Homo sapiens: one gene and its partner. The protein of the gene in region 1 purifies or fractionates together with the protein of each later gene. This does not show direct contact. Each region holds a gene or a part of one and is shown in the gene's direction. Other genes may lie near its edges.

Region 1 (4,297 bases):
TGAGATTTCATTCAACTTTCCCACTGAACAATGATTTTGCACCCCCAGAGGGGTTTTCTATGATACAGTTTATAAGAATTTAATGATTGTTTCATTATGTGAATTGTCAGGTATAAGGTGGAGATATTACACTCCACGTTCCTTCTGTAGAGTGACATCTGCTGGGCTGTGCCCCACAGTGATTTTAAGCAAGTGCCTGCTTGTTTTATGGGGATCAAAGCTCATTTCTCCCGATGTTTAAACATCTAGTTTATTGTGGTCCGGAGAAGTAATTTTCACTTAAACATCAAAGTCAGTTCCAGAGTTTAACGAGTGTACCTGAAAGTAATGCTGGAAAAATACCTCTGATGTATTTCTGTAGATGTGTGGTTATGGCAATCTGTTGGCATAACTCAGAACAGCCTCTCCACATAGAATTGTCAAATAATTTCTTCGTGTAATTATGTTTGGGAGTATGGTTGGGGACAACGTACTGGATATGAGTCAACGTGGAGGGGTCAACAGAATTACTGCTTTCAGGGCATTAAGGAAACTCAATAGGAAACAATACCCATTAAAAGGATACACTTGTGCAACAAGATTGTCGTTTATCTTGACCTGTTTTAGAAAACACGCAACAGAGGCCCGGCGCGGTGGCTCTCGGCACTTTGGGCGGCTGAGGCGGGCGGACCATTAGGTCAAGAGATCCAGACCATCCTGGCCCTGTCTCTACTAAAAATACAAAAATTAGCTGGGCGTGGTGGTGGGAGCCTGTAGTCCCAGCTATTCAGGAGGCTGAGGCAGGAGAATCGCTTGAACCCGGGAGGCGGAGGTTGCAGTGAGCCATGATCACACCACTGCACTGCACTCCAGCCTGGCGACAGAGTGAGATTCCCTCTCCAAAAACAAAACAAAAAACAAAAAACAAAAAACAAAAAAAAAACGCAGCAGAATAAGGACAAAACTCACGTCCTTTTAAAAACGCATCTCTTTGCCTTAAAAGGCTGCAGTGATCCTTCCCTGGCAAAAATAAAAAACCACAACTGCTTTGCACTTTGATATTTACGGCCAGGCAAAGCCTGTGTAAGTCTTCGAGAGCCGCCGGCAACAAAAACCGTGGAGCGCACCCAGCAAGTTGCTCACTCCGCCGCGGACTGCGAAAGGAGCAGGGTTGCGGAGCTAGGGCTCCAGCCTGCGGCCGCGCATTCTTGCGTCTGGCCAGCCGCGAGCTCTAAGGGTCGGCCCCGCCCGGTCCGCCCCCGCGGCTCCCTGCCAGGCTCTCGCGGGCGCGCTCGGGGTGGGGCCTCGCGGCTGGCGGAGATGCGGCCGGGGCTGCGCGGTGGTGATGCGAGCCTGCAGGGCGGCGCGCCGGGGCAGCCGGAGCCGCGCGCCGCGGCGCTGTAATCGGACACCAAGAGCGCTCGCCCCCGGCCTCCGGCCACTTTCCATTCACTCCGAGGTGCTTGATTGAGCGACGCGGAGAAGAGCTCCGGGTGCCGCGGCACTGCAGCGCTGAGATTCCTTTACAAAGAAACTCAGAGGACCGGGAAGAAAGAATTTCACCTTTGCGACGTGCTAGAAAATAAGGTCGTCTGGGAAAAGGACTGGAGACACAAGCGCATCCAACCCCGGTAGCAAACTGATGACTTTTCCGTGCTGATTTCTTTCAACCTCGGTAAGCTAAATTGGTCATTTTCCGCATTACAGATTTAGCAAAGTATAACTTTTTTGGCCTGTATATTGATTTTTCATACATTGGTATGCTCAAGCCTGGACATTTTCTTAAGAACACACGCGGTTTGTCAGGGAAGCTTTCCCCTTGCTGAGAGCCCTGCTCGAGTTGTTTCTTTAGGCGGTGACACCTGCGGAGAGTTTCAAGTTGAGTATTACAGTGCCTTCAAAGGCAAAATTGCTCCAGAGGAGATAAGAGAATTCTTTTCTTAATGTGTTGTTAGTTTGCGATCAGCAGAAGTGAAAACACCAAGAGGAACGTCTGTGTCTGAGTTAAAGGGAAGAAGTTGTAAGATACTGTTGGGGAGGCGGGGGTGTATTTAAGACACTTGGCTTTCAGTCTTTCACTCCTCATCACTAGGTGGGATGTAAATCAAATTGCCCTGTAGACTATCTTCGTTTCACCTGCCATTGTATCACCAGTATTCTTTGCAATTGGTTGTATATGTACTTTTGGGAGAAACATATAAGGTAAGATACCAATATGTAAAAAAAATGTGTAAATAATATCAACTTGCTCAGTAAACATAACAAAGGTTAGGCATATTAATAGTTTTTTTCTTTTGGCTTTAACTATGAAGTCAACAGAACCAAGGGGTAAATTACTGAGGGAAAGTCACCCATAAAATCAGTTTCTTTCTAAGTTAATTTAGGGATGACAGGGTGAAGAGGTTGTGGAAGCAGGAAGAAACTGTTTCTTTTGAAAATTACCAACACAAACATCTCTAGAGTTTCCTCCATCTGTGTGGTAAAAGAAGCGTACAATTTCATTTCTAACTCTCATAACATATGCACCACCTAGGAAATCTACTTACAATTTTTGTTTAAAATTGCATATTCCATTTAATTCTTTTTATTCTGTATTAATGAAGCTGTCTTTTTCAGTTGTTAGTGGTTCTTACAAAGAATTTAATAATTTTGACTATGAAATTTTAATTTGAAAAGCCAAATAATGAAGATCAGCATTGTTGTAACCTGTAAAAATAAATTTCTTTACTGGACTCTTGGGTCACTTTATTGTGTAATTATGGTAGAAGCAAAATGATTGTGTTTCTTTAATGGTCCTGAGTTTATTTTACATGATGTAGCCACTAGAGCTCCTGTAGGTTTATGGTAACACATTATCTGGTCTTCCTTGGGATTCAGATATTAGTTAATAGCATGTACCAATTTTATATCTATAGTTTGAAGCAGTGACACCTGTCTCTTTGATTTATCTTTGGGAATTTTGACAGCCCACATTCTGGTTGATTTATTTAAAATATGCATTGGTGGATACATGGCTCACTGGATTGCTCACCACTAGGTCATTGGTTTGAATTTGGCACTAGTCCATGGTTACTTCAACTGCATCATTTAACAACTGCCTGTTGGTCATCTGGATAAAATGGCAGATAACTGATTCCAGTGACTTCAGTGATCCAGGATTGAGCACACATAGATTTATGTAAGGAAACACCACTTCCAGAGACAATTACTCCAAAAGAGCTAATGACTATTGAAGTGAGTAGGTACACATGAATGCTCATGTGAGATTTTGCTGCTGCTGTTACGTTAGTGGGGGGAAAGAGTTCTCATCCAGTAATATTCTTTTAGCTCAATTCTATTCAAGTCTTTTTAATGTAATGGATTTCTAGAGAGAAGATCCGTTAAAATATTGGGCTTTCCTTTGGGTATCAGTGTTTTTCTTCACTGCTTTGTTCTGTTTTGATGGTAGCATCAATTTGCTGGAAGATGAAAGTTTCTCTTGTTGCAAAGACTTCCAGACACAAATGAATCAAATCCACATTTTCACATCTGAGAAGCAAAGACACAGCACCTCCTACTGTTTGCATTACTGTAAAAGTTCAGATGGTTCTTTTGTGAATAGGGTGTTTTGTCTAGATTGCTGTTTTTTCCTACTCCTAAAATGTGAAATGAGATATAACAAACATGTTGTCTCTCTCTTAAAGGTATTTTCCCTTGGATATTAACTTGCATATCTGAAGAAATGGCATTCCGGACAATTTGCGTGTTGGTTGGAGTATTTATTTGTTCTATCTGTGTGAAAGGATCTTCCCAGCCCCAAGCAAGAGTTTATTTAACATTTGATGGTAAGAGAGTTGATAAACACTCTGGGAAAAATGTTATTTTAAGTTTTGTTATCTTCCTTATCCAGATTCAGAAATTAAGAGTATAAATATTACTGGATATTAATTTTAAAAATATTTACTGGGCTGCGTTTTGGAGGACAATAGCTATTTTAAATGATTGGTTAATAGACAAAGATCCTCTGTTGGATTTGAGGTATTTATGAAAATGCTTATAATATATGCTGCTTTTTGTAAAATAATTCTTCTGTGCTTGCCTGTGTACTCACAGAGGAGATGGGCACGAGCTCAAAGCCTAGCATCTTTGATCTTACTGTTCACCTGGTAATGTTAAGAAATTGCCCCTTTGTGCTAATCCTCAGCAGCAGAGAGAGCTATGCAGGTTCAATTACTAAAAAATTCTCCCAATTAATTTTTTGGGCATTAGTCTCAAAACTGGTTACTCCGTGTGTTGTTCTAATGGTGTTTCTTCTTTTTCCACAAGGATTTCCTGAGAT
Region 2 (3,819 bases), on another chromosome or scaffold:
CTTTGATTGGAATCTTTGTTGATCAGAACACCATTAAGTAAACCCCAGGCATATTGTGCGTTAACATTTTCATCCCGTTTCTAGTACCAGGTAATTAGGCTCAAAGCTCCCATGTTAACAATTTCTCCTGTTCCACTCCAAAGAAAACAAGTCCCCAGTGACTGAGCTGCAGAGCAGTGCAACTGTCTCCAGTTAAACTACCAGGGCTGCAAAGATGCTGATTATTAGTAAATGTCTTCTATTTGGCATGACAGACATGGTTTCTCGATTTGAGCCACACTCTGTTTACATGTCAGCAGCAAGCATTCTCTTGTTCTAAAAAATCACTCCTTCTTTACTGAAACTACTGTAGACTTTGGGCAAAATTCGTTTCACTTGAAGATTTTCCATATGGGAGAACAAACACATGCATAAACCATGCCAGATCCTGGAAACAGCACCACGTAGAAGGGCAGCCATGAAGGTTTTTCTTGTGCCTGTTTTGGGGTTAGGTACATGCACTGGGAATGGTAAAATCCCCTTGCTAGACTAATGTGTGACTAAGCATTTTGCAAAACTTAATGATCACCTATCTAGCCAAGGACTGTAAACACAGATTACAATCTAGGACAGATGGGGCTGCATGAAATCTGAGTTAGATGAGCAAGGAACCTCCCAGTTGATCCAGAATGGGTTGTTTCCACGTGCTAAGCAGTCTGTCAGAAGCCCCAGCGCCCACTCCCCTCTACCACCTCCCACACTTCTGTTCCCAACAATGAGTCAGATATGACAGGCAAAACTGGGGTGTGTGATTTGCTCCTGTTTCGTTCCTTTCTATTTTTCTGTCTGCTTTCATCTGGTCTGTTGGCGGTGCTCACGGAGACAATATTGTTTTTTTCCATAGGGAGCACGCCAGGATACGAAGGTGAAGGAGAAGGTGACAAGAACATCTCCAGGAAGCCAGGCAATGTGTTGAAGACCTTAGACCCCATCCTCATCACCATCATAGCCATGAGTGCCCTGGGGGTCCTCCTGGGGGCTGTCTGTGGGGTCGTGCTGTACTGTGCCTGTTGGCATAATGGGATGTCAGAAAGAAACTTGTCTGCCCTGGAGAACTATAACTTTGAACTTGTGGATGGTGTGAAGTTGAAAAAAGACAAACTGAATACACAGAGTACTTATTCGGAGGCATGAAGGCAGACAGAGATGAAAAGACAGTCAAAGGACGGAAGTGGAAGGACGGGAGTGAGCTGGGGAGCTGTTGATCTTTCACTATACAGGCTGGGAAGTGTGTTGATGACCACTGAGCCAGGCTTTTCTCAGGAGCTTCAATGAGTATGGCCGACAGACATGGACAAGGAGCTGTGTTCACCATCGGACTCATGTGCAGTCAGCTTTTTTCCTGTTGGTTTCATTTGAATAATCAGATGCTGGTGTTGAGACCAAGTATGATTGACATAATCATTCATTTCGACCCCTCCTGCCCCTCTCTCTCTCTCTCCTCTCCCCTTTGTGGATTCTTTTTGGAAACTGAGCGAAATCCAAGATGCTGGCACCAAGCGTATTCCGTGTGGCCCTTTGGATGGACATGCTACCTGAAACCCAGTGCCCAGAATATACTAGAATCACCGCATTTCAGTGGACTCCTGAAGTTGTACTTGTGTATAATTGCCCGCGTCGTGCATAGGCAAAGAAGGATTAGGCTGTTTTCTTTTTAAAGTACTGTAGCCTCAGTACTGGTGTAGTGTGTCAGCTCTGTTTACGAAGCAATACTGTCCAGTTTTCTTGCTGTTTTTCCGGTGTTGTACTAAACCTCGTGCTTGTGAACTCCATACAGAAAACGGTGCCATCCCTGAACACGGCTGGCCACTGGGTATACTGCTGACAACCGCAACAACAAAAACACAAATCCTTGGCACTGGCTAGTCTATGTCCTCTCAAGTGCCTTTTTGTTTGTACTGGTTCATTGTGTTACATTAACGACCCACTCTGCTTCTTGCTGGTGAAAGCCCTGCTCTTTAATCAAACTCTGGTGGCCCACTGACTAAGAAGAAAGTTTATTTTCGTGTGAGATGCCAGCCCCTCCGGGCAGGCAAGGGCTCTGAAGATTTGGCAACGTGGCTTAATTGTTCTGCTTTTTCTGTAGTTCAATTTCATGTTTCTTGACCCTTTTGTATAAAGCTACAATATTCTCTCTTATTGTTCTTTCATATGGAATGTATTTTCAAATGTAAACTCTCTTCTCTTTCTCTCTCCTATCTCTCTGTCTTTTTTCTCTCTTAGAATTGGAGGATTTGCCATTGTCCAGGAAAGAAACTTGCAGCTTTAACCTGCTGGGAATGGCAAACGATTTTACTAGACTTTATGTTTAAAAATAAATAAATAAGGGAAATTCCTAACTTTGCCCTCCAAAGTCTAACTTTGGTTTTCTTGTTAACTGGTTAAAGTGACAGTATCTTTTTTCCTTATCTATTCTATTCAAAATGACCTTTGATAGAAATGTTGGCATTTAGTAGAAATAGTGATAAGTTGAGGAAAGAAATAATACAAATTGGCTTTCAAGTGAGACCCAAAGGAAGAACTGGATAAAATCTTCCAAATCCAAAAGCATGAGATTTTTCTATCCAAATATGCAAAAATGACCCAAGAGAACTTTCTTATTTTGCTACTGAGTCACACAAGGGAAGTGGAAGGAAGAACAGTTAATTTAAGAATGAAACTATAAATCCTGATGCCTGGGGGTCAAGTATTTTAAGATAAGAGGGGGAAAAACACATAAAGTCAAACAAATGTTTTAAAAATTCATAACAGCAACCTTGAAAAAATAGACTTAAATGAATGCTTCTAGAAACTTCCAGCGGCTCACAAAGAATAAGCCTGCCTTAGGGCTGGCAACATCTAAGCCTCTAACAGCACAGGGAAGCAAATATCTTACCAGGCAGCCTATGAATTAACCCAAAGAAGCTTTGGTTGGTTTTGGTGGATTTTTATCATGCCATGTTGGACATGAGATTTTTTAGATCTTCCTTCCCACATTGCTAGACGTCTCACTCAAAGACATTTGTTGGGAGTCACATTTGCATCATAGACGAGACAGTCCATTCATCTTAGTTAAATTGGATTGAGAATGCCTTTTGTTTCCAGGAAAATATTGATCACCATGAAAGAAGAATAGTTTTTTGTCCCCAGAGACATTCATTTAGTTGATATAATCCTACCAGAAGGAAAGCACTAAGAAACACTCGTTTGTTGTTTTTAAAGGCAACAGACTTAAAGTTGTCCTCAGCCAAGGAAAAATGATACTGCAACTTTAAAATTTAAAGTATCTTGCACTGATAAATATATTTAAAAATTATATGTTTATAAAGTTATTAATTTGTAAAGGCAGTGTTACAAAATGTTCAGTTTATATTGTTTTAGATTGTTTTGTAATTTTTAAAGGTGTAAAATAACATATTTTTTCTTTATGGAAATCTATAAAACTTTCTGTAGTAAAATGTTTTCATTTTACTGGTATATTATTGCTTCATGTTTTGTACCATCATAAGATTTTGTGCAGATTTTTTTTACAGAAATTATTATTTTCTATGACAATATGACACTTGTAAATTGTTGTTTCAAAATGAACAGCGAAGCCTTAACTTTAAATGACATTTGTATTCTCAGACACTGAGTAGCATAAAAACCACATAGAACTGAACTGTAACTTAAATTCCAAACTATGACTACTACATTCCAAAGAAACAGTTGAATTAAACATTTTCATAAAATATCCCACACCTGATGGCTTTTATTATATTAGCACTGTTCTAGTTAAAGAAGTTGGTGACATGCCACTAT

What was found.
Region 2: the proteins of SEMA3C (region 1) and NRP1 purify together in Homo sapiens (co-immunoprecipitation; one large-scale study listed by IntAct). This does not show direct contact.

The regions. Positions count from the first base shown.
Region 1 is NC_000007.14:80,916,185-80,920,481, reverse strand, and holds the start of SEMA3C (semaphorin-3C isoform 2 precursor), read left to right. Parts: upstream 1-1,430; 5' UTR 1,431-1,654; intron 1,655-3,662; coding exon of another isoform or gene 3,663-3,700; coding exon 3,701-3,803; intron 3,804-4,297. UniProt on the Homo sapiens protein: Binds to plexin family members and plays an important role in the regulation of developmental processes. Required for normal cardiovascular development during embryogenesis.
Region 2 is NC_000010.11:33,177,430-33,181,248, reverse strand, and holds the end of NRP1 (neuropilin-1 isoform a precursor), read left to right. Parts: intron 1-883; coding exon 884-1,173; 3' UTR 1,174-3,756; downstream 3,757-3,819. UniProt on the Homo sapiens protein: Cell-surface receptor involved in the development of the cardiovascular system, in angiogenesis, in the formation of certain neuronal circuits and in organogenesis outside the nervous system. Mediates the chemorepulsant activity of semaphorins.